Regions from separate parts of the Homo sapiens genome. Here regions 1, 2, 4 and 5 are each linked to region 3. Evidence: fine-mapped expression QTL. A gene starts in region 3. Each other region holds a variant in brackets. All regions are shown on one strand. Distances are between the middles of the regions. Region 1 overlaps LOC105376434 (a long non-coding RNA gene). Region 2 overlaps FAM171A1 (family with sequence similarity 171 member A1). Region 3 holds the start of FAM171A1 (family with sequence similarity 171 member A1). Region 4 overlaps FAM171A1 (family with sequence similarity 171 member A1). Region 5 overlaps NMT2 (N-myristoyltransferase 2).

What was found. PIP is the estimated chance that this variant, and not a neighbour inherited with it, causes the effect.
Region 1: its variant is the best candidate, but not a certain one, in a credible set for the expression of FAM171A1 in whole blood (INTERVAL, PIP 0.79).
Region 2: its variant is the best candidate, but not a certain one, in a credible set for the expression of FAM171A1 in NK cells (Gilchrist 2021, PIP 0.53).
Region 4: its variant is the best candidate, but not a certain one, in a credible set for the expression of FAM171A1 in blood mononuclear cells (TOPMed, PIP 0.85).
Region 5: its variant is the best candidate, but not a certain one, in a credible set for the expression of FAM171A1 in blood mononuclear cells (TOPMed, PIP 0.54).

Annotation. Positions count from the first base shown.
Region 1 is chr10:15,197,855-15,202,292 of GRCh38, forward strand. The region is part of intron 1 of LOC105376434 (a long non-coding RNA gene); the gene reads right to left. Among named protein-coding and RNA genes, the nearest start is that of FAM171A1-AS1, 8.5 kb to the right of the region's middle. RefSeq lists an enhancer at 2,516-3,715. The variant T/C (reference allele first, on the strand shown) is at 2,070.
Region 2 is chr10:15,245,390-15,250,381 of GRCh38, forward strand. FAM171A1 (family with sequence similarity 171 member A1) reads right to left here. Exons shown (of 8, transcript NM_001010924.2): 5 at 3,250-3,426. Among named protein-coding and RNA genes, the nearest start is that of FAM171A1-AS1, 39 kb to the left of the region's middle. RefSeq lists an enhancer at 2,841-3,342. The variant A/G (reference allele first, on the strand shown) is at 2,098.
Region 3 is chr10:15,368,648-15,373,639 of GRCh38, forward strand. FAM171A1 (family with sequence similarity 171 member A1) reads right to left here and starts at 2,642. Exons shown (of 8, transcript NM_001010924.2): 1 at 2,309-2,642. The coding sequence starts at 2,405. RefSeq lists silencers at 2,399-2,628, 2,639-2,688.
Region 4 is chr10:15,251,434-15,256,425 of GRCh38, forward strand. It overlaps FAM171A1 (family with sequence similarity 171 member A1), which reads right to left. Exons shown (of 8, transcript NM_001010924.2): 4 at 3,288-3,446. Among named protein-coding and RNA genes, the nearest start is that of FAM171A1-AS1, 45 kb to the left of the region's middle. RefSeq lists an enhancer at 4,281-4,924. The variant T/C (reference allele first, on the strand shown) is at 2,157.
Region 5 is chr10:15,158,845-15,163,836 of GRCh38, forward strand. All of the region lies in intron 1 of NMT2 (N-myristoyltransferase 2), which reads right to left. Among named protein-coding and RNA genes, the nearest start is that of NMT2, 7.4 kb to the right of the region's middle. The variant C/T (reference allele first, on the strand shown) is at 2,432.

The DNA.
Region 1 (4,438 bases), 170 kb before region 3:
TCTCTACTAAAAATACAAAAAATTAGCTGGGCATGGTGGCAGCTCACTGCAACCTCTGCCTCCCAAGGCTCAAGCCATCCTCTTACCTCAGTCCTCCATAGTTAGGACTATGGGCATGCACCAACACACCTGGATAATTTTTGTATTTTTGGTAGAGACAGGGTTTCGCCATAACGCCCAGGCTGGTTTCAAACTCCTGGGCTGGAGCCATACACCCACCTCAGCCTTCCAGAGTGCTGGGATTAGAGGCATGAGCCTCCGCACCTGGCTTTCATGTGTACCTTGAGTCAGGATCCTGCAGAATCCCTGCTGCAACTTGGAAGGCGCATTGTGAAGCCATGCTCCTGAGCTGCAGTTGTGGTGCAGAGGACTGAACATTTGAATTAATGTATTGAATTAGTTTGCTTTGGCATTCAATCTTTACTTTGCTGGGGTGGGAGGGGATGGCAATAATGGAGAACATGTGGTCAGAGGGAGAGTTGTGGTCAGCACTTCTCTCTCCCTCCTGTAGCTTTAGCCTCTTTGCTCGCAGAAGTTTCTGCCCCCTCCCCTAACCCTGGGCTTGGGAGTAAAGCAGGGATAGGGTCAGAGGGTGGGAGGGTGCCTGGAGTTATCAGCACTGCTTTGTCCAAAGAAATCCTCCAAAATGCTCTCACTGTCTCTCATGACCCTTTTTAAAGTGGACTAAGCATTGTGGGGCCGGTTTCCAGGCATTCTCTTTGTAAATTCCGCACACTGACACCCTGTTACACCGGTATCCAATTCTGGAGAAGGGCTCTCCCTTTCTGATCCATTCAAAGGATTCTTAAGACTAACCTTCTGAGACAGGATCTCACTCTGTCACCCAGGCTGGAGTGCAGTGGTGCGATCTCAGCTCACTGCAGCCTCCACCTCCCAGGCTGAAGCGATCCTCCCACCTTAGCCTCCTGAGTTGCTGGGACTGCAGCTGTGGGTCACCACACCCAAGTCATTTTTGCATTTTTTTTTTTGGAGATAGGGTTTCCCTGTATTGCCCAGGCTGGTCTTAAACTCATGAGCTCAAGTGATCTGCCCACCTTGGCCTCCCAAAGTGCTGGGATTACAGGCATGAGCTGCCATGCAAGTGTCCCCCACCTTTTTTTTGGTTTTGTTTCTGAGACAGAGTCTCAGTCTGTCACTTAGGCGGGAGCGCAGTGGCATGAACACAACTCACTGCAGGCTTGACCTCCTGGGCTCAAGTGATCCTCCTACCTCAGCCTCCTGAGTAACTGGGACTACAGGCATGTGTCACCATGCCCAGCTAATTTTTTTTTTTTTTTTTTTTTTTGGTAGAGGCGGAGTCTCCCCATATTGCTCAGGCTGGTCTCAAGATCCTGAGCTCAAGCAATCCACCCATCTTGGCCTCCCAAAGTTCTGGGATTACAGGCAAGAGTCACCGAGCCCGGCCAAGGCTAACTTATTCTTTTTTTTTTTTCTGAGACGAAGTCTTGCTCCATGGCACAGGCTGGAGTGCAGTGGCGGGATCTCGGCTCACTGCAACCTCCATCTCCCAGGTTCAAGTGATTCTCCTGCCTCAGCCTCCCAAGTAGCTGGGATTACAGGGGTGTGCCACCACACCTGGCTAATTTTTGTATTTTTAGTAGAGACAGGGTTTCACCATGTTGCCCAGGCTGGCCTCGAACTCCTGACCTCAGGTGATCCGTCCACCTTGGTCTCCCTAAATGCTGGGATTACAGGTGTGAGCCACTGTGCCCAGCCCAGACTAACTTATTCTTAAGACAGTGAAGGCTGAAGTTTGTAGTTCAGTCTGCACTGGACCTCCCTCAGGTCTCTGAACTCTTTGCCACATGTGGCTGAAACATTATTTAGCAAGAGGCATCCCCCACTCTGTGTTGTGTGGCCTCTTCAGCAAAGAGGTGCCTGACAGTCCCCTCTGAATAATGACATAGTTTTCTCTAACAACCAGAATTTGTCTTTCAAAGATGTTTATGCTAATCTCAGCTGTAAGATCTCAGACAGTCCTAAGAGAAAGGCATGTTGAATCCATCCATTACCTATCCCCACAATCTTCTAGGGTTCCAGGGCTTTCA[T/C]CCTGAGTGAAACCTACACTGCTTGTTCCCTTTTTTCATTATTTAGTGTGAGTGAAGCCAAAACTCAGTCATTCTCCGAGGTGGAGAAATTTCATACAGATTTTGATGTCTGATATTCTATCTGCTTGCACTGTTAAATTTCTCAAATATGTATATTTGTTTTCTCAGCAAAATCGTAAATTTATTGGGGAAATGAGGAATCATAGTTCATCTTTCCATGGGAAGGAGCCAGCTGCCCTGGGATCTCAGCAGCTTCACTGGTGAAGAGGGTGGGAACACTGTCCCCCTGAGCAGAGGCTGCGGCTACAAGGCTTGTTGGTGACAAGGACAAGGATAAGTCAAGACTTCCATAAACTTGAAGCAAGGAGGTGAACAGGAAGCTCCTGGTGAATTTCCTATTCACATCTTCAAAACTTTTATTGGCCAAGTGCAGTGGCTCACACCTTTAATCCTAGCACTTTGGGAGACTGAGGCAGGAAGATCTTTTGAGGCCAGAAGTTCTACAGCAGCCTGGGCAACCATGTGAAGCTCCATCTCTACGAAAAATAAAAATAAAATAAAAATTAGCCGACTGGTATGGCATGCATCTGTGGTCTCAGATACTTGGGGGGTTGATGCAGGAGGATTACCTGAGCCCAGGAGTTTGAGGGTGCAGTGAGCTGTGATCACTCCCCTGCCCTCCAGCCTGGGTGACAGAGCCAGACCCTGTCTCAGAAAAGAAAAACCAAACTTTTTTATTGGGGCTTGATATTACTTGGAATAAAGAAGCCACAACAATATCATCACTCTGTTATTATCTAGACTATCAGCATACTAGCGATATGAATCATAACAAAACTATAATACGATTTTATCTATAGAGTCACACATTGAAACAATTGGGAGTAACCTTATCAAAGGAAACAGATAACTGATAATGATCACACTTGTGAATAATTTCACAAAGAATGTGGTGACTTCATTCACCAAGGATTTCTGGAATCCTGAATTCCAGGTCAGTGGTAAAGCCTCAGAGGACAGAGGGAGGAAAAGGATTGAGTCATACCAAGGCATTTTTTAATTATTCCAAAGGTCATTCTCAAGTTAAAAAAATCACAACATCATTGTTATTATGATGGTATTCCTGAAAATCAAGAGATTCTAATTCACACAAGATATTCCATCATTTGACAGCTGTCACCAAGGGTAAAATTTTTTTTTAAATTATTCAGTTGAAATAATTAAAGTTTGGTTGAAAAAGTCAAGATGTTATATGGGGGTCAGTTCAGCCCTATATTTTCTAAGTACGTCAATCTGAAGTTTCAGGCACAAAGAATAGACATCCAAAGAAATTCAACTTGCAGCCAGGTGTGGTGGCTCACACCTGTCATTCCAGCAATTTGGGAGGCTGAGGTGGGAGGTTGCTTGAGGCCAGGATTTTGAGACCAGCCTGGGCAACATATCCATTGATGCTGTCTTATCCCGGTGATGATCTGAGGGGAGCTAGCTGCAGTATTATAGAAAAATGACATCTTTAAAAAATGACTATCTTTCATATGAGATCCTCAAAAATGCTCTATGGCCAAGAATTGTCTCTGTTCTCTATTGCTACTTGTCTGAAGATGTGCCTCTTCAGCTTTTACCCTTTAATCCAGAAAAGGCAAACCTCATCCCTGAGAAAGACCTTATATTCCTTTTCACTTACTCAAGAAAAAGAAGAAAATTTTTCTGTCCTCTGTCCAGGAAAAATGTAACTGATCTTCAATGCAATTTGAGCTTTTCTCTGTTTCCAAGTAGATATTTTTTATTTGCCATCATTATGCCCCATTTATGGGTCTCATCATCTCAAATGTGAAATTTCCCACTGCTGGGCATCTGATCTCATTTTAACCTTCTCTCTTACCTTCTCTGGCCTTTGAAGAGTGACTAATGTACTAGGACTCCAAAATAACCAACCTCGGAGAGTAGCTATCAAGTTATTTTTCTGAGGCTCGCAGGATCATTTAACATTACTATTACTGTGTTTCTGGAAGACATTTATAATTATGTTATACTGTTTATAAAATGGTTAGCATTCTGGGAAACAAAGCTTTTAGCTTTCCATAATGAAAGCAGCTCTATTGAATAAGCATTGCAAAGTGGCAGAGAGCACCGTTCATAAATGAAGTTACTCTGCTTCTTTATTTGTCTGTGAAATGACAGAAGAAATAACCTCACCAGTTGACTGTAAGGACCACAGGACACGTTTAGAGCCCTTCTGGAAATGTGGGAGGTACTAAGTGTTAGCCGTGGTTCCCAGCCCTGGAATTCATCTCTCTAAGGCAGCTGTGTGGGGTAGAGAGAATACTGCACTTCTGAACACAGCATGTGAGTTTCAGTGCAAATCCTGG
Region 2 (4,992 bases), 120 kb before region 3:
CAGATCACTCTCCACAGTGAGGGAGGGCCTCATCTCATCAGCCTGCCTTGCAATTTTGGACTTGCCAGCCTTCCCAATTGTGTGAGCCATTCCTTAAAATCAATCTCTCCAAATATACATATATCTCCTATTGGCTCTGTTTCTTTAGAGAATCCTAATACACTCATTATAACAACAGTGGGTACTATTATTATTGCCATTTCACAGTGGAAGAAACTAGATCAGAAAGGCTAAGTAACTTGGCCAGGGCCACACAGCCAGTGGGTGGCAGAGCTGGCATTCCACACCACTGTGCCCCCCAGACTCCCTGCTCTTAACCACACTCTCCGCTGCTTCTCAGTGCATTGACCTGGGTGCGCTTCAGCGCCCCCTGGGAGGGCTACAGGGGACAGGCAGACCATACAAGGGGGTGTATATTCATATCTCTTACAAATGCAAATAGAGGTAAGTAATTTGCCCAAGGTGGGACTCACAGTTTTATAAGTAGCAGAACCCAGGTTTTCAGGAAACAAAACACAAACTCAAAGCTCTTTCCATTCTCTTGCCCACTTCCTCTGTGTTTTTCTTTATCCATTTTCTTCCTCCCTTTAGAATTCCGGCATTCTTCAGAGACTCTTGGTCACACATCCCTCAGGCTACTCCCTCCTGGAGGCACAGTGTACCTCAGGTCCCCACCATGACCTTGATGCCCCCCAAATTATCAGGCTCACAGAGAACACACACCATCAATAAAGTGCCCGTCTCGCTTACTGCAGGATATGTGAACAGATTATCAGGCTCTCAGAGAACACACACCATCAATGAAGTGCCCGTCTTGCTTACTGCAGGATATGTGAACAGACAGCATCACAATCCACTTAACAATATCAAGTTTACTGTGGCTGGTAAAATCAATGCATTCCACACAAATAATTACAGTGTCTCTATTAATTATTTGGAAAGTAAAAATAAGACAAAACAAAAATCCCCTCCAAAAGCCCAACAGGCGTTTCTTTTAAAATATAATTCCTAGAACTCTGTTTTAACTGATTCGAGGAATTAGATATCTTTGAAAATATACTGATATCAAAAATCTCCCAATTATCTTCATGCATGGTCTAACAGTTTTAAATTCTGAACTGGCTTATTTGAAAACTGGTATTTTCTTTTTTCGAGACAGTCTTGCTCTGTCATCCAGGCTGGAGTGCAGTGATGCGATCTTGGCTCACTGCAACCTCTGCCTCCCAGGTTCAAGGGATCCTCCCAACTTAGCCTCCCAAGTAGCTGGGACTATGGACATGTACCACCACAGCTGGCTAATTTTTTGTATTTTTAGTAGAGATAGGGTTTCACCATGTTGGCCAGGTTGGTCTCAAACTCCTGACCACAAGTGATCTGCCCGCCTTGCCTCCCAAAGTGCTGGGATTATAGGTGTGAGCCACCGTGCCCAGCAGCAAATTGATATTTTCAAGCTTGACTTTCAGGGCACTAGGAAGCAAAGGGGGGTAAGAGGCCCCACGCTGCCAAGACCCTCAGCCCGAGCACATGCTCGTGGGCTGGTATCATGAGTGCAAACCAATACAACTGTCTGGAGGGAAATCTGGAAATATGTTTTAAAAGTTTTAGAATTTTGTACATTTTGTAACTCAGCAATTCTTCTAAAATGTCATCCTAAGGAAATAACCAAGGCTGTGCATAAAGATTTAGCTAGAAAGATATTTTCTACAGCATTGGTTAGAATAGTAACATTTTTTTCTAATTGCAGGGGATTGATGAACCAAAGTGAAGTATGATATATCCACAGGGTGGAATACTATGGACTTATTAAAATTGACATGGCAGAATAATGATGCTATGGAAAGATGTTCATGCTGTACAAATGTATTTTTATGTATATATTATTGGTTGATTGAGTGAGTGAGTGGTCTCGTTCTGTTGCCTAGGAGGTGCAGTGGCTCGATCATAGCGACATCACTCACTGTGACTTTGAATTCCTGGGCTCAAGCAATCCTCCCGCCTCAGCCTCCCAAAGTGTTGGGATTTCAGGTGTGAGCCACTGCACCCAAACAGTACCCAGCACATGATCTCATTTCTGCTAAATATGCTTTGTAGAAGGCA[A/G]CCTCTCAGATAGCCAGCCCCAAGTGACCCCTGCCTCCTGGTATTCACTCCCCTGTATAGTCTACTCTCAGTGCTGGTCTATACCAGTGTGGGTCTGTGTGACCAACAGCCTAATGGAAAGAAATGATGGTATGCTGCTTTTGGGATTAGGTTACAAAAGACCATGACCTCAATCTGGGCACTTGGGCTTTTAAAAGGCTGGTCTCAGACTCTTGGCCTCAAGTGAACCACCCGCCTCAGCCTCCCAAAGTGCTGGGATTACAGGTGTCAGCCACCACACCCAGCCTACTATATCATTTTTATTTACTCTTGGATCATTTGCTCAGGGGAAAGCAAACTACCGTGTAGTAAGCAGCTCTATGGAGGGTCCCACGTGGTAAGGAGGTAAGGCCTCTGGTCAACAGCCGGCAAGGAAGTGAGGTCTGCCTTCAGCCCTGTGAGTCACACTCATTAGCCCCAGCTGAACACTGCTGGAGAGGACCACAGCCTTGACTCACAGCTTGACAGCCGCCTTGTAAGAGACTCTGAGCCCTACCACCCAGCTCGGCTGTACCTGGATTCCTGACCCCCAGAAACTCTGAGATACTGGAGCTCACTGTTGTTTTAAGCAGCTAACTTTTAGGGTGGTGTTACACAGCAGTTGATAACTAATACCTACGTGCACTGTGAAAGCCCTAGAAGGACAGAATTCAAGATATATTAGTGGTTTTCTCTAGGTGGTGAGACTTATGGGTAATTTTTATTTTCTTTGTTTTGTACAGTTTTGGCAAATGTTTGTCCTTTTTCAGAAAACAGAAAAAAAAAATACCACACATGACCAAGAGCAACCATATGACCTTCTGATGAATAAAAGGATGAAGATTAGGAGAGCCAGTTTTAGCTCTAATAACCTTTACAGATTCTTTTCAAGTAAATTAGGTTAAATGTGCAAAACAAAAACAAATATGAAAACTAACAAAAAATGAGTTCCCAAGAGAGGGTCTGAATGGCACGGGGAAGGGTGCCGTCCCCATGAGAAACCACACAATGCAATGTGAGCAGCAGCATTCACTGACTTCAAGGAAAGGAGACTTCCATGAGCTTCTTAGAAGGAAAACCAAACAGTAACGAAGCCATCTGGTAGCCGATTGTCGGCACAGAACTCTTGCTTACCCAGCTTCTGGTCAAACCGCCACGCCGCGACATAGGCATTGTGCCTCAGGCTGCTCTGCGTGGCCAGGGGCACAGTGACATAGATGGGACCATCCACCAGCACCGGCGTTCCATTACTGCTCAGCAAGTGGACGCTGACGGCTGTGACTGGGGTCAGGTCATGCCTGGTGCTGTTTCCTAGAAGGAAGAGGCATTTTCCATCATTTGCATGCAAAGTACCCATGTGGGGCTGTGGAAACCTTTGCAAAAAAATAGTCGCAGCTACCATTACCTCCTATATGCCAGGGACTGCATGAAGCACTTTACATACATAATCCTCACCACAACCCAGTAAGGCAGGTAAAATCGTCATTTTTACACACAAAGAAACAGGCTCAGAGAGAGTAGTAATGGTAGGTGGCCTAAGGGCATACACTCAGTATGGGCTGAGCTGGAATCTAGGCTCAGGTTTTCTTTTTTCTTTTTTTTTTTTTTTTGAGATGAAGTCTCATTCCGTTGCCCAGGCTGGAGTGCGATGGCACAATCTCAGCTCACTGTAACCTCCACCTCCTGGGTTCAAGCGATCCTCCTGCCTCAGCCTCCCAAGTAGCCGGTATTACAGGCTTCCACTACCCTGATGGATAATTTTTGTATTTTTAGTGAAGATGGGGTTTTGCCATATTGGCCAGGCTGGTCTCAAACTCCTGACCTCAGGTGATCTGCCTGCCTTGGCAATCCCAGGCCTGTGCTGGGATTATAGACTTAAGCCACTGTGCCCGGTCAGGCTTGCTATTTTTCATTATTGTGTTTTGCTTTCAAAAACGATCTCAAAAGAGAAGGATTTTTCTATAATGTGAGACAAAGGTGTAAGTGGAAATCACCGGAAATAACTTTTACACAAAGTGAGCCCCATGCACATGTTAATTACTTGGCAGATAACCTTAATAAAACCAAATGTTTTAGAGCAGAGGCTGCTTTTTTTTTAACATAGCAAATTTCTTCAAGGATTGCTTCAAAAATATTAACTTCTGCTAAAAAGTATGCTATTGAGGACTGGACTTGAAATATTTATGAGTTATTTTAATTGCCATTGTTATTTTGATCTGTTTAAAAGGACCTCAGTATACCAATTATTTTCCATTAAAGGCCTTTGGTCCAAGCCAAAGCTTTAATGACTGCCTACAGATAAATTAGAGAATGCTTATGAGACCGATATATTTATGCACTCAAGCAATCCATTTTACATTTTCCTCTAGTGAAATACAATATCGCACAAACTGTGTTGTCATAATTTTACATATTTCTTTGAGCACAATGACAAAAACACAGCGATAAAAAATTTAAGCTGCATTAAAATACAATCTATAGGACTTTTTATTCAGCTACTTATATACTTACCTACCTACCAAACTGAGCTGATGTAAACCTCCAATCTGGTCTACATTTAAACATTTAAAGAAAACCTAGTGAATTTTAGAGTCTCAACAATGAATTACAGCTAAATCCTTCATACAGCAATTTCTACACAGCTAATGCCACCCTACCTTTTATCATTCATACCCGTCTGTTTTTTAATGAAGGCAAAGGTGTGGGAATGGAGATTTCGTGGAAAGATCGAAGTTGGAATCACAGATCCAAGTTTTGAAATCTCTTAGTCTGGTTATGTCATTTTATGGTAAAAAAACAACCAACCAACAAAACTCAGAATTTACCATGTTTCTGGTCCAAAGATTTTGTGTCTTGAAACACAAATGTGCCAGCAGC
Region 3 (4,992 bases):
CCTACTCAGCACCATCTGAGCACCAACTGTATGCATAACAACCTACAACCCACTGTGGGAAATGCAAAGTGAAATCAGATGCAGCATTTGTCTTCATCGTGTACATGATCCAGGAAAGCAGAGAACACATGAATTTTAAAACTACGTCATACTACAGCAAGTGAACATTAAGATGCTTTGAAGAACTCAGTGAGTTGGGACTGACCTTCTAATGTCAAAGGAGAAATTGTCCATTCCCTTAAAAATGCTGCTAGCTCAAAATCCAAATGCCAGGTAGTGAGACCTGATTTCTGAAAGAGTTCCTGGGCTCAAGGCTTTAAAAAGCCATCCTTACAGTAGATAACAACAAAGGAAGTAATCCAAGGGGTAAACTATGCCAAGATACTTGATCTCCCACTCCAACCATACCCTAAACTAAGCCACTGCTAGCCATGGCAGAAACCTCTTCTCATGTTGACCATTTCCCTCCCATTTCGCATAATATTCCATTCCTGAGAGGCGGATTTTTAGCAGCAAGAGCTGGGTAAAACGTGGTCTTAGACCTAAACCTGTTATATATATATTGAATATATATATATATATATATTGAAGACATGCCTTCCTTTCTCTAATTCAGAAGTGCATGAATTTAATATTTCCATATATTGGTATTTCAAGTGCAAAAGGAAAAATTCAACTTGCTCTTTAAAATTAACGGCCTCGCTGAAGTGCAAATATCATTCTCTAAAATAGCTGATTCAAAAAAGCAGTAGGGTATTAATAAAAGAAGCTGCAATGCAACACTGATGATCTAATGTCCTAAACATTCGTTTCCTACACGAAGAGACATATAGGTCTTTTTGTATTTTGTAGCTGTCCGCTCTTCCATGATATGCATTACTAAAATTATACACAATTCATAACGGTCATATTCTACCATGGCCATAGAAGCAGCAATGCATTTAAGATATACCAGGAAATGATACTGCAAGTGCCAGAATATGAAAACCTTCAACTCAACATGTAGGCAACAAACTCAACCCAACAGAGTGTTGGCAGAGCCTTTCCTCCCCGTAGCAACATCGTGGTGGAAGCCCGGGCGTCTCTGCTCCCAGGCACCCTGAGCATGTTAGCCGAGGAAAGGGGGTTCCAGCAAGGAGACCCTCGGATGCAGCACTCCTCGTTTCTTTGGCCTGCAGGGCCAACTTTGCAGGACACACACCCTTCTGAGGGGACAGGCCTCGGGCTCGGAATCCCGGGGTTCTGCAGGGCTGCAGGGAGCTCCCTCGCAGAGACCTGAGCCCCCGGCAAGAGTCCAGGCAGCGGTGCCCTGGGTGAATGCAGAGGCTCATCTGCGGGCCTCAGTGGCCCTTTTGAAAACGCCAGCAACAGAGGAGTCCTCGACGCTGTCCCCACAAAAATGTGCCAAGCAAGCCTCAGGGTGGGTGTGGGGGACTCCCCTCAAAAAACGCTGATTTTAAAAACAAAAGACAGGCTCGTGGCCATTCTCAGAGGCGACCACGTTACTCCCAGGGCTGGAAAGCAGATTTGTGGAGGCCAAAGACGAGACAAAAGGCACGAGCTGGCGACAAACTGATCTGGAAAGGATTTTTCTTTTTTTTTTTTTTTTTTTTGGTGAGCGATGAGGGCCTCCCAGTTCAATTCTTTCTTCCCTTACAGAGAAGACTCATGGGCCGCTGAGCAAATCCCTTATGGTCTGGAAGAGACGTCAGATAGGCAGGGGGAGAGAACCCCCCAAACTTTCCCAAACTGCGGCAGGCTAGTGGCTAGTGGCGGCAGCGGACCTCGGGGCCCCGGGACACAGGGGGCACCCCGGGGCGTCAGCCACCCCCTCCCGCCACAACAAAAGGCCCCAGCGCAGCCCAGGAGCTGGGACTTCCCAGACCCGAGCCCGGCGTGGGGAGCCGGGAGCGCGATCGGGCGGCGCGCCCTGGGCGGCCCCTCTGTCCGCGGCGACATGGGAGACAGAGCCGCGTGTCCGAGGCGCGGCATAAAGGGGACCCCCGGGCGCATCCAGACGAGCCCCCGCCGCAGCGGCGACAGCAGCTGGAGCTGCCCGCGCCCCCGCCCGACCCAGCCCCCGATCCCCGGCCCCCGAAGCCTCCGCCCGGGTCACCCCGCGTCGCCGGCCCGCGCCGCCCCCTCGGGAGCGCGTTGCGGGTGCTGCAGGCCCGGAGGCTCCCGATGCGGCTCGGGCTGCGTCGCCACCACGCGGCCCGGGACCCTCCCGCCGCCGCCGCCGCCGCCGCCGCCTCCGCGCCAGGCCCGGCGCGACACAAAGCCCCCGGCCCCGCCGCCGCCCACTGACCTTGGGCTCCGGCGCCGGGCTCCCGCAGCGTCTTGGTCACCGCCTTCCAGACGTGGCAGCCCAGCAGGCACAGCAGCAGCGTCGCGGACCTGCTCATCTCCGCCGCGGGGCCGGCGGCGGCTCGGGCTCGCCGAGAGCGGGCCGGGCGGCGGCGCGTCACGGGCGGCCGGGCGCCGCGCCCCCCTCCATGTCGCTGGCTCCGCGCGCCGGGCCCGCCGCCCGATTGGCCCGGCCCCGCCGCCCCGGCCGCTCCCTCCCGCGCCCCGCGCCGGGTTTCCCCGAAGAGCCGCGGCGGCGGCGGCGGCGGCGGCTGCTGCTGCTCCGCCAGCTCCTTAACCCCTTCCTGCCTCGCCCGCCGCCGCCGCCGCTGCCCGCGCCCAGGCCCCGGGCCCGTGGTGCCACCTGGCGGCTGCGGCGCCGAGGGCGCCCCCGCCCGGCGCCGCTGCGTCGCGCCCCCAGCCCGACCCCCGGCGACACTGCCCCGGCGCGCCCCATCCCCGCAGCCCCGCAGAAGAGCCAGACCTGCCTTTCAGGGCGGAGCCCTTTTCATCACACCAGGTCACCCAAGGGGCCGCAGGAGACATTGTATCTGGGTGTGACCCCCCCACCAGGTGCCATCCTAATGTAGTTGTGTCCCCCAACGTAGATTTCACACCCAGTGTTAAAGATCCGCAAAAACACTCCCCAAGCCAGTATAGACTGCAGTAGGCCTGCAGTACCTACGTGTTGGCGGGTGGACAGCTTCAGGAGGAATGGTACTTGGATGGTTCTAGGGGTTAGGGTGGGGAGGAAATCCACATCTTTTGAGGCCCTAGGTGCTTTAAAACTTTCTGTCCTATTAAAGAAAAAAGACTATTCCATGACACGTGTGAAAGCACAGCAAAGAAGACCCTCTTTGGAACCATCGCAATAGGTATAAGCCCTACCATGGGATTCTGCAGTCGGGGAGAAAGGTTGGGTTCAACTCTGAATACAGCAGGAACAAGTGGGGATTTATAACCGAGGACCAGGGTGGGATGCAGGGAATGAAAAATTATAAGAGGAAACATCAGGGGGAAGGGGGATTCTTGAAAGTCAGACATCCCCTGGCAGGGCTGGGCAGGACAGGGCGGATGGGGAAGCTGATCAGATATCCAGGGTGGAGGGTTCTTGGTAAACTGACTTAGCAGGGTTCTTCCTGAAAGCAGATTTTACAAGGAAGGGCACAACTGAGCCTAGAAGAAGGTTCCGGAGCCTGACTGTAGTTCGGTCAAGCAGAGACTCTTTGTCCATCTTCACAATACATGATCTAAGAGGTAGTTAGCATTATCCCCCCCATTCACAGATGAGAAAAGAGGCTAAAGAGGGTTAAGGAATTTGTCCAAAAGTGCATACCTGGTCAGTGGCAGAGCCAAAATTCTAATAAAACAGTCAGTCTGACCCCAAAATTGAAACTCTTCACAAAAACCTCCAGACTTGGCTGGGTGTGATGGTTCATGCCTATAATCCCAACACTTTGGGAGGCTGAGGTAGGTGGATGGCCTGAGTTCAGGAGTTAAGAGACCAGCTGGGCCAACATGGTGAAACCCTGTCTCTACCAAAAATACAAAAAAATTAACCAGGCATAGTGGCCCATGCCTGTGGTCCCAACTACTCAGGAGGCTGAGGTGGGAGGATCGCTTGAACCTGGGAGTGGGGAGGTTGCAGTGAGCCAAGATCGTGCCACTGCACTCCAGCCTGGATGACAGACTGAGACCCCGTCTCAAAAAAAAAAAAAAAAAAAAATCAAAAAATAAAACCACCAAAAAAACCACACACAAAACAAAACCAAACCTCTAGACTTTCCTTGAGCCTAGGGACCCCCTCCATTCCAACCTCAACTTTTCTTTCTCTCAACCCACTCCTGTCGGTATGCCTTCCACACAACCTTCACCTCCACTTGTCCCTCTCCACCTTCTCTTCCAACTAGCACTGCGGTGACCTTCCGACTTCCACTGGGGACCTAGGAAAATCCACTCCAGACCCATCATCCACCCCACACTGCTTCCAGAACACCAGGCCAGAAGGAGGGTTATTACTGTAATTTCATTAATTGAGCATTTAGACATGGCAGGCACCGTACCAAAAAAAGAATGAAGGATGGCACTTGCCCAGTTGGCTTATAAAAGACAAATGACTGTGAGACATGAGAAAAACTAGGACGTACAGAAGCCCATATGGGTTTTATAGTCACCCTTAGGACCAATGCTGCAATTTGCGCAAATCACGCACCTGCACAGGGTGGCAGGTAGTCAGGAAGGCAGAAAGAAATAGGGACTGCTGGATTCCCTCCTTCTTCTGATTCCTGCATCTAAGCCTAATATATGGCATCAAAGTTCCTAATATATGGCACTCACTGAACTGGAGCTATTTCCTCATAACAACTTATTTGGTAGGTATCATTGTTTCCATTTCACAGATGAACAAACCGAGGCTTGGTGCCATTAAACAACTTGCCCACAATACAAAGATCTGATAAGTGTAAATTCCCTATACCATGTTACTTCTGAGAATAAATTTTATGCAAATGATTCAAATTACCTCCAGGAGTGTCCAAATTGTTTGAACCTGCTCTAATCCCAGTGAAGTGCAAATCTAGTGAATACTATGGTGCCAATGTTCATTTCCTGGCATTGACAGTGTACTACAGTTATATAAGATGTTAC
Region 4 (4,992 bases), 120 kb before region 3:
GCTCTGTCACCCAGAGTGGAGTGCAATGGTGCAATCTTGGCTCACTGCAGCCTCTGCCTTCTCAGTTCAAGCAATTTTCCTGCCTCAGCCTCCTGAGTAGCTGGGACAACAGGCACACACCACCACTCCTTGCTAATTTTTTTTTCTTTGTTTTTGTATTTTTAGTAGAGATGAGGTTGGTCAGGCTGGTCTTGAACTCCTGACCTCCCTCCCAGTGATCCACCCGCCTCGGCCTCCCAAAGTGCTGGGATTACAGGTGTGAGCCATCGCGCCTGGCCTATTCTGCAACAATTCACATTTTGAAGGGCTAAACTATTTTCCTTCTCTTTGTTATGAAACTCCAATTTTACACAAAATACTGAGTTTTATATAGAAAGTGGTCATCCTTCCCGTTCCATCTGGATGTTGCCTGGCTCCCTTTAAGTCTGCACAAAGACAAGCAGGTGTCAGGCAAATGCAGCAGGATCGTGTTGCGGGGCAGAACACCACTGGCCCAAGCGAGGAGAGGAGCTGTATCACCTTGGGCCATCTACCTGGTCACTCGTCACGTGACAGGTTCTGCTCAGCTGACATCTAAGGTTCTGTTGGGCTCTGTATTCTACCAACTTTTTGGAATTGCAGGAAAAGTCTGCACCTGTCATTTTATTGACTCTTCTCTGTCTTCCTGGAGTTATTAGTGAAAGCAATTTTTGTAAAAACCCCTTGGGAACACCACGGAACATTCTGTGCTTTCTCAGCAGCTGGGGGAAGAGTGCGATGCTCTCCGGTGAGAGGAGGGGGCCCCCAAGAGCTAGAAAGAGAAGATGCTTCTCCACTTACTTACAACTCTGGATCCACCCTCTAAACCAAACAACACAACCTTCATGGTACCCCCAGAAAACAGCCTTTCGGAGCCCTTTCCAGTCTCTTCCGCAGCCTCTCTGTTTCCATCCACCTTCACTGAACTCTGGTTATGACGCTAGTCATTTTCTGCGTCTTCGGGAGATGAACTTGTGTCATCTTCCAAAGACACGTCTGGTCCAGGCGTGCTCTCTTTAGGCTGTGAGCTCTTAGATGCCTTTAGTAAAACAGGAGATGAGTGACTGTGGGCAAAAGACAAGCTGTGTGCAAACTGACCCCAGGGGCCGCCATGGAGCTGGTGAGTTACTGAGGTGTCTGTGCTCAAGGGAGCCCAGGTTCCAAGTCCCCGAGGGCGCGTGTGAATTCACTATGGGTGGATGCCTTCGCTGCTAGGTCTCCAAGAAAGCCTAGTCATTTCTAGGTCAAGTCATCCATTCTTTCCGTGGAAGAGAAATTTCATGTCACATTGCAAAGACCTCTCTTCCCTTTGAAATCACGGAATGATCTTAAAATAGGACAAACTCCTCTAAAATCAATAGTTCTGTGTCTTAGTGTTCGTTTTCCCCCATTTTCTCAGACTGCATAATTTATTCAAGAGCTACTGGAAGTGGGGCACAGAAAAATTTAATGAGTCCCGAGCACGGAGGCTGTCCCTCCAAGTTAGGGTTTTGTGGATCGTGCACCATTTTGTCCGGGAGGCTGGATGCTGGCTATGATATTTTAAAACTTTGTTTTTTTGTTTTTTTTTGAGACAGAGTTTAGATCTGTTGCTCAGGCTGGAGTGCAGTGGCACGATCTTGGCTCACTGCAACCTCCACCTTCTGGGTTCAAGCGATTCTCCTGCCTCAGCTTCCTGAGTAGCTAGAACTACAGGCACCTGCCACCACACCCAGCTAATTTTTGTATTTTTAGTAGACGCAGCATTTCATCATGTTGGCCAGGCTGGTCTCAAACTTCTGACCTCAAATGATCCACCCACCTCGGCCTCCCAAAGTGCTGGGATTACAGGCATGAGCCACCGCACCCAGCCTTAAACCACTTCTTCATGCTCCCCAAAACAAGACTTTTCTCCCAGACCGGCACATTTCAAGTAATAGTCAACATTTTTTTTTCCTAATAATGTTTACTTAAGATGACTGCTATGCCATCTTTCTGATGACCAAGTACTGACATATTTACTGACAAGTTAATCACATCCTCATCAGCACACAAAAATTAAAGAAGAAACGTTTTGGAAAACAGAGAGAAGAAAAATGAGTAACAAATCACCATGTTGCCTTTATGTATAACCAGAAACTTATTAATATGCTACAAAA[T/C]GGATCAAATGTTTCAGGTTTAAAAGCTTTTTCAGAATAATCAGTTTATGTAAAGCACTGGAAAATTAAGTGAAATTCAAGCCAAGTATCCCTGGGAAATGCAGTGAGTTACTCTCCTAGCAGAATGCAACTCAGAACAGCCTTTGATTTAAAATTTTAATGCTGTGATTAGTTTAAAGTGTGGGGGAAAGGAAAGTGGGGTAGACAAGAAAATAATTCAGGACTCCAGAATCCTGACACCTCTTCCACCAGGAGGAGTGGGGACCATTCCAGTGCAAAGGGGTCCAGAGAATGGTGCAGTTGGACACAAACAGAGGTGGAAGGTACCCGTCTTGGGTCTTTCTCTGATAAGGAATTATCACTTATTTTCTGGTGGATGGCTTTTAGTTTCTCTGATCTTTTAGCTGTGGCATGCCAGAATAGTGGTACTGACCCAGCTGACTTAGAGACCTGCCAGGAGAGGGCGGATTCTAAAGCAAATTCAAAGCCTGGCCACTCTATGCCCAGTTGAGGACAGAGAGAGCAAGTGCAGAGAAAGAAACGATGTGGGAAAGAGCTGGGTGGACACAGATGGCAGAGGGCGGAGGCTCCCCATCCTAAGTGGTCCCCATGCCGGTGGGGCATGGAGCCAAGGTATGCCTGTCTCTGAGTTGGACCAAGCACCACCTCTTCCCCTCCTGGCTGCAGCATAGGTGGGTGGGGTGGTAAGTCTCTACCAGCCCCACCCACCCACAGGCTACCCTCTCAAATGGGGGCTCGTGGGACGAGGCAGAGGGCAGCTGGGCCAAAAACCCTAAGTCTAATCTTATACTTAAAAAAATTGCAATTTCAATAAGAATTTCTCTGAATTGAATATATTTAGTCCACCAAAGGAGAGCTCAGAGAAGGTGCTTAAGGCAACTGGTAACAGAAGAAAAGCTCAAGGAGACCAATGTGCTAACATGTAATTCTGCAGGGCTCGTACCGACGTAACACAGTTTCAAAGCACTTGAACTTGTACCAAGAATTCCCCTTCTGCACCTTCAGTGCCTTTCTCCCACATAGTGCTAAAACTCCCAATCATACCTAAAATCCACATGTAAAGACTAAAACACAGTAACTCCCACTGAAAAGAGAAAAGACTCCAATTACCTGTTCCATTTCCGTCTAATCCTCGCAAATAAGGAAAACTGTCCACCTCCGAAGGGGAGCTGGCGGCCGTGAGAAACGCGGTCAGGTCACTGTAGCTGGTGTTCTCAGGCAACCTCAGAGCCCTTCTCTGGAAATGAACGCGAGGCTGTGGCCGGGCACCTGCAGAGATTAACCTCCGAGTTATCTCCCCCAGGAGCAGTTTCTGTTTTTAGAAAATGCAAAACCAGGAAGTGCCTCTCTAAGGTTTCAGCACGCCTCCCCCACCCTGCTCCCTCTCACAAGGCCTCCCTTCCCCCATTCATGCAGGACACAGAGATGTGACAACATGCTATTATGGGGAGAGAAATAATAGCCCATTGTCACATTTGTTTTGACACAGGATGTTATTTAGGTTTTTAACAAAAAGCTTTTTCCAAGTTCCATGTGCAAGCAGTCTTGTCACTGCCCAGCATTTGCCTGTGGATCTGGGTAGCATTTTGGGAAACTCCATGTAAATGAAACAAGTAGATGACTATTAATCTCTTTACTCAAACAATGTAAGAGATACTCTTTGATACCGCTGCAAACCCGTCTTTAATCTCCCTGGAAAAATCTGGTTTAATGCCATGAACCAAATTGAAGGAGGGCAAGGGAATTAACAGTGCAACCTTGAAAAGAATTGCAAACAATACCCCAGCGGCAATGAATCTTCTCTTTCTGTGGGAGCTGCCATTTGTCATCATCCAGTCTATTCTGGAGGCGTGCTTCCTACTTGTGATGGATTATGTCACAGAATTTAGGATGAGACTTTTGAAATGATGCAAAATGATGCTTCTTCACCAAACTCAACTCCTTTGTGTAGGAGGACAGGTTGGGCTGACAGGCCCTAGACAGTTGGTTGTGCCGTCCTCTGCAGCTTAACTTTGCTCCAAATTTTCTTTTTCTTTTCTTCTTCTTTTTTTTTTTTGAGATGGAGTTTTGCTCTTGTCGCCCAGGCTGGAGTGCAGCGGTGTGATCTCAACTCCCTGCAACCTCTGCCTCCCGTTCAAGCGATTCCCCTGCCTCAGTCTCCCAAGTAGCTGGGATTACAGGTGCCCGCCACCACACCCAGCTAATTTTTGTATTTTTAGTAGAGGCAGGGTTTCACCATGTTGGCCAGGCTGGTCTTGAACTCCTGACCTCAGGTGATCCACCCGCCTCAGCCTCCCAAAGTGTTGGGATTACAGGTGTGAGCCACCGCGCCTGGCCCAGATGTTGTTTTGATCATAAAACCTGAACTGGTTTTTACCTAATGCTGCGGTGATATTCACCAGACGTAAAGGTGCTAGGTAATTTTGTGCAAACCTGGCAAAAGCATTGTTAAGAGAAAAACTGTAGATCCAACCCCAGGCTTGAGGCAGACCACATTCCACCTGTGCTTTGCTGAGGGTTCCTTCTCCCGGCCCCCTGCTGTCCTGCTTCAACAGCTCTGCACGGAGCTGGTGGGCTTTATCTCCACTCCAGGGTTCCTTTTAACTCTGGATCAAAGAACTTGTAAGGAGTGAAGAAGCCTGTCTAGACGTGTTCTAGAAAAAGGGAGTTTTAGAGCTCCAAGAATCCACTAGCCCAAGTCTCTCTTCTTAAAGGTGAAGTCACTGAGGTCCAAAGGACTTATGTCGGGGGCAGCCTGTCTTGGCTACACACTGCCTAACTGGCAGGGAGTCACAATGCTCCCTCTTCCTTTTAA
Region 5 (4,992 bases), 210 kb before region 3:
AAAGCACTGGACTCTATCTCTTTATAAGCATACACTGATCCGATTCATGGGGACTCCACCCTTGTAAGCTATTTACCCCCCAAAGGTGCCACCTCCAGACACCATCACGTTGGGGATTTAGGCTTCAACATATGAATTGGCAGGGAGATACAATTCAGTCCCAGCAAGGTGCCAGCATTGTTCACTATGTCCTTCCCTGAAAACTCCCTTTGCCCACAGGTCTCACCAAAGGTGTGGCCCTCAGTGGCCATGTTGTACCACACAATTCTCTTCTACCCCTCCCTTTCCCTTCTCCATCACAGTGGACTGGATCATGCCTGGATAATCCCTTTCTTGGCCAGAAACCAGTGAGATCCTTTCTGGAGAATCTGAACTAAGGAACAGATGCTTGGGGCAGTCTAGTTGACAGAGACTGAGACAGAAAGGGAGAGAGGTTAGAAAGACAGATGGACCTTGGGTACTTGACTTTCTATAATGTTTAATTCTAATAAAGTCCAGCCATACTTTATTTTCAGATAACCTATTGTATATTTAAATAAAACCTCCTTAAAATATTTATTTATTTATTTATTTATTTATTTATTGAGACAGAGTCTCACTGTCGCCCAGGCTCACTGGAGTACAGTGGCACAATCTCGGCTCACTGCAGTATGTGCTTATAAAGTGATCTCCATCTCTCGGGTTCAAGCAATTCTGCCTCAGCCTCCCGATTAGCTGGGATTACAGGTGCCCGCCATCGTGCCAGACTGATTTTTGTATTTTCAGTAGAGATGGGGTTTCACCATGTAGCCCAGGCTGCTCTCGAACTACTGACCTCAGGTGATCCACCCGCCTCGGCCTCCCAAAGTGCTGGGATTACAGGCGTGAGCCACTGCGCCCAGCAAAATAAAACCTTTTACTCTAGCTGGTTGGTAGATGCTACACACACATTAAGCAACAGACGCAAAGACCCACATCTCCCATTTGTGATTGTGGACAAGGAACTCACCTCTAGGAGCCACAGCTTGGGGCAGGAGAATGAGGGTCTTCCCGAGCAGAGGGCTGGGGAGATGAGGTGAGAGCAACTGGGAAAGATGTCACGGGAAAGATACACTCACTAAGAGCTACAGGGCTTCCGGCAGGGGTCAGCGCCTTTGGTCATAGTGGCTGCGGAAGGCTTCATGAAAGAAAGGACATTTGGGCTGACCTTGAACTTAGAGAAGAGGAGAAGAAAGATCAGGAGACACTCTCAGAAGCAGAGGAAGCCATGACCCACAGAAAGGCGTGAGCAGTAACAAATTCCTCTTGGTGAACAATGATGTCTGACACTGAATTCAAAGTTGTTTTCTGCGCTACTCTGTAATCAGACCTCCCTCCCTCCCCATTAGCCACAAACGCTTCAGCAAATGCTGTGCACAATAGCTGGATTTTAGTGATTCCTGGGAGGAGGGTGGTGAGAGACACAGAACTGAAGATAACCGTGTTCCACCCAAGGTCAAATGTTGAAGAAAAAGAGCACCCTAAGGACACACAGGCACAAGGAGCCCGGTGATGGGGCAAGTTGGCTGCAGTGTGGGTGTGCCTGAGGACCATGAAAACTTAAGACCCCAAGAAACCCCCATGAACATGTATCAGCTCAGGCCATTTTGTTTAGATAGTAAAGGAAAGGTGCCAGGTGCAGTGGCTCACACCTGTAATCCCAGCACTTTGGGAGGCTGAGGTGGGGAGATTCCTTGAGGTCAGGAGTTCGAGACCAGCCGGCCAACGTGGTGAAACCCCGTCTCTACTAAAAATACAAAAATTAGCTAGGCATGGTAGTGTGCGTCTATAATCCTGCCTACTTGGGAGGCTGAGGCAGGAGAATCGCTTGAACCTGGGAGGTGGACGTTGCAGTGAGCAAAGATGACGACACTGCACTCCAGCCTGGGCAACAGAGTAAGACTCCATTGCAAAAAATAAAAAATAAAGGACAGGCGATCCCAGCATGTGAAAGGACATGGAAACCCTTTGGTAATAGAACAACAGGGAAAAAATGCCAGAAGCTTCTAGACTGAAAACAAGTTAAAACAGACAAAAAGAATAAGATTACCTATAAAAGACAGAGAAGCAGAGAAAACAGCATCTGGCCAGGCACAGTGGCTCACACCTGTAGTCCCAGCACTTTGGGGAACCGAGTCAGGTGGATCACCTGAGGTCAAGGTCAGGAGTTCGAGACCAGCCTGGCCTGGGTGACAGAGCGAGACTCTGCCTCAAAAATCAAAAAAAAAAAAAAAAAAAAAAAAAAAAACACAAAGAAAACAACATCTGTACCAGTAAATACTGGAAGATATTAAAACGTTTATGGAGTTTCAAGGAAAACGATTGTTATCATAGAGTCACATGCACACCCAGGCTATGTATTATGTGGGAGGGGAAAAGAATGGCATTTTCAGACATGCAAGAACTCAAAATA[C/T]ATCATCCACGCACTCTAAGAAAAAAAATCATGTGAGAATGCTGTTAAAGAAGAAAAAGACAGGATGTGTTTTATTTTTTACTTTTATTTTTTTGAGACAGAGTCTTGCTCTGTCGCCCAGGCTGGAGTGCAATGGTGCAATCTCGACTCACTGCAACCTCCACCTCCTGGGTTCAAGTGATTCTCCTGCCTGCCTCAGCCTCCCGAGTAGCTGAGATTACATACGCCCGCCACCACACCTGGCTAATGTTTTTTTGTATTTTTAGTAGAGATGGGGTTTCACCATGTTGTCCAGGCTGGTCTCGAACTCCTGACCTCAGGTGATCCGCCCACCCCGGCCTCCCAAAGTGCTGGGATTACAGGTGCGAGCCACCACGCCTGGCCGGGAGGATGTGTTTTATAAAGAACGATGGAAACCCATAAAAACAATAAAGCTGTCAGGAAAGTCTAAAATGTTTTTGTTAACAGGAATGTGAAACATGTAATAGTTAAGAAAAAAGTCTCTAGTGACACAAGGGCAAAAATAAAAGAATTACAATTCCAGGTTATTTCAATTAAACCTAGGAAATGAAAAGAAGTCAAAATATCCTACATGATTTTTCTTGTGAGATGGTAGAATATTTTAAATAGTGGTTAATTTTTTGATATGGATAAAGAAATATAGATGAAAACATACTTGTTCAAAATGTACAGATCGCCGGGCACGGTGGCTCACGCCTGTAGTCCCAACACTTTGGGAGACGGAGGTGGGTGAACTGCTTGAGTTCAGGAGTTCGAGACCAGCCTAGACAACATAGTGAGACCCTGTCTCTACAAAAATACAAAAATTAGCCAGGTGTGGTGGCATGTGCCTGTAGTCCTAGCTACTTGAGAGGCTGAGGTGGGAGGATCACTTGAGTCCAGGAGGTCAAGGCTGTAGTGAGCTGAGATTGTGCCACTGCACTCCAGCCCAGATGACAGAGTGAGACCTTGTCTCAAAAAAAAAAAAAAAAAAAAAGTGTACAGATAATCCACAGAAGAAAAAAAGAATGAAAACTAGACATATTCTACCAAAGACAGGAAATAAAATACAGAAATTTTTGAGTACCAAGAAAGCTTATAAACAAAATTCAAAGACTGAATATGATCTGAGCTGTCCAGTATGATAGCCACTAGTCACATGGAGCTATTTAAATTTAAATTAATTCAAATAAAATAAAAACATTCAGCTCAGTCACACTTGTCACATGCAAGTGCTCCATGTGTTGATGACTGCCCAACTGGATTACTATCACCCCAGAAAGTTCCAGCACACAACAATAAGAGTCAGCGAAACATACATGGTAACAAATGCACCCAGGTACAGTAAGATCCCAGCGATGTTAAACACACACACATATTAAAAAGTGAGTTCATTAAACTATCAGTGGTGACAGCTCTGGGAAATAAGGTGACCAGGGGCTTTCACTCTACCTTATATACCTTATTGTTTGATATATATATATATTTTATTTATATATATATTTGATTTATATATCTCTATGTATTTGATATTATATATCTGTATTTGATATTTATATATCTCTATATATTTGATATTTATATATCTATATATTTGATATCTTTTGATATTTATATATGTGATATATATAAATATATACATATAAGAGAGAGATATATATATATGTATATTTTTAGACAGAGTCTCATTCTGTTGCCCAGGCTGGAGTACAGTAGTGCGATCACAGCTCTCTGGGCTGAAGCAATTCTCCCATCTCAGCCTCCCAAGTAGCTGGAACTATACGCATGCACCACCATGTCTAGCTCATTTTTTATTTCATCGAGATAGGGTCTTGCTATGTTCCCCAGGTTGATCTTGAATTCTTGGCCTCAAGCGATCCTCCACCTTGGCTTCCCAAAGCACTGGGATGACAGGCATGAGCCACCACACCTGGCCCTATTGTTTGATTTTTGAATAAGCGTATTTTTAAAACGTCATTAACATGTTTTCAAAGAAAACAACAATCAATTTCTTGAACTTGGAGTAGAACTTGGTTCTGTTAAAATAAAGTGATTTTAACTAGTATAGATGTATAACGTACATTTGCACTAACAAACAAAGATGGCAAAGTATGTGTCCTATATTTAGACAACCCTGGAAAAAATTTGTTCTGGGCCAAAGGGTGACATCACCCATTCAGATGCAAGTCTTAGCAGACACTTGATCATTTCAAACAGTAGTTCTTGATTTGAGGAGGTCCCTCAGGCAAAGACTGTCGTTAATCTATTTTTCCATTTAGATTTATACAGTTGATAACAGATCAAATTTCAGAAAGGGCAGCTTTGAGTTATCCCTAAATTTTCCATAAGAAAAACTTATTGCAAGTCATAATGTTTCTGCATTTTCCCACTGATACCACACAGCTGACAAAGGGGAAGTTCCCAACTCAATTTCAACAACAGACATATGAAGTCAGATACAACAACATAGTGCCCAAAGAAGAACTTCCTTTTTTTACCCCCTAAATTGGGGATGGTAGAAGACAGATTATGTTCTTTGTTAAAAGAATTCCAAAGTTTTC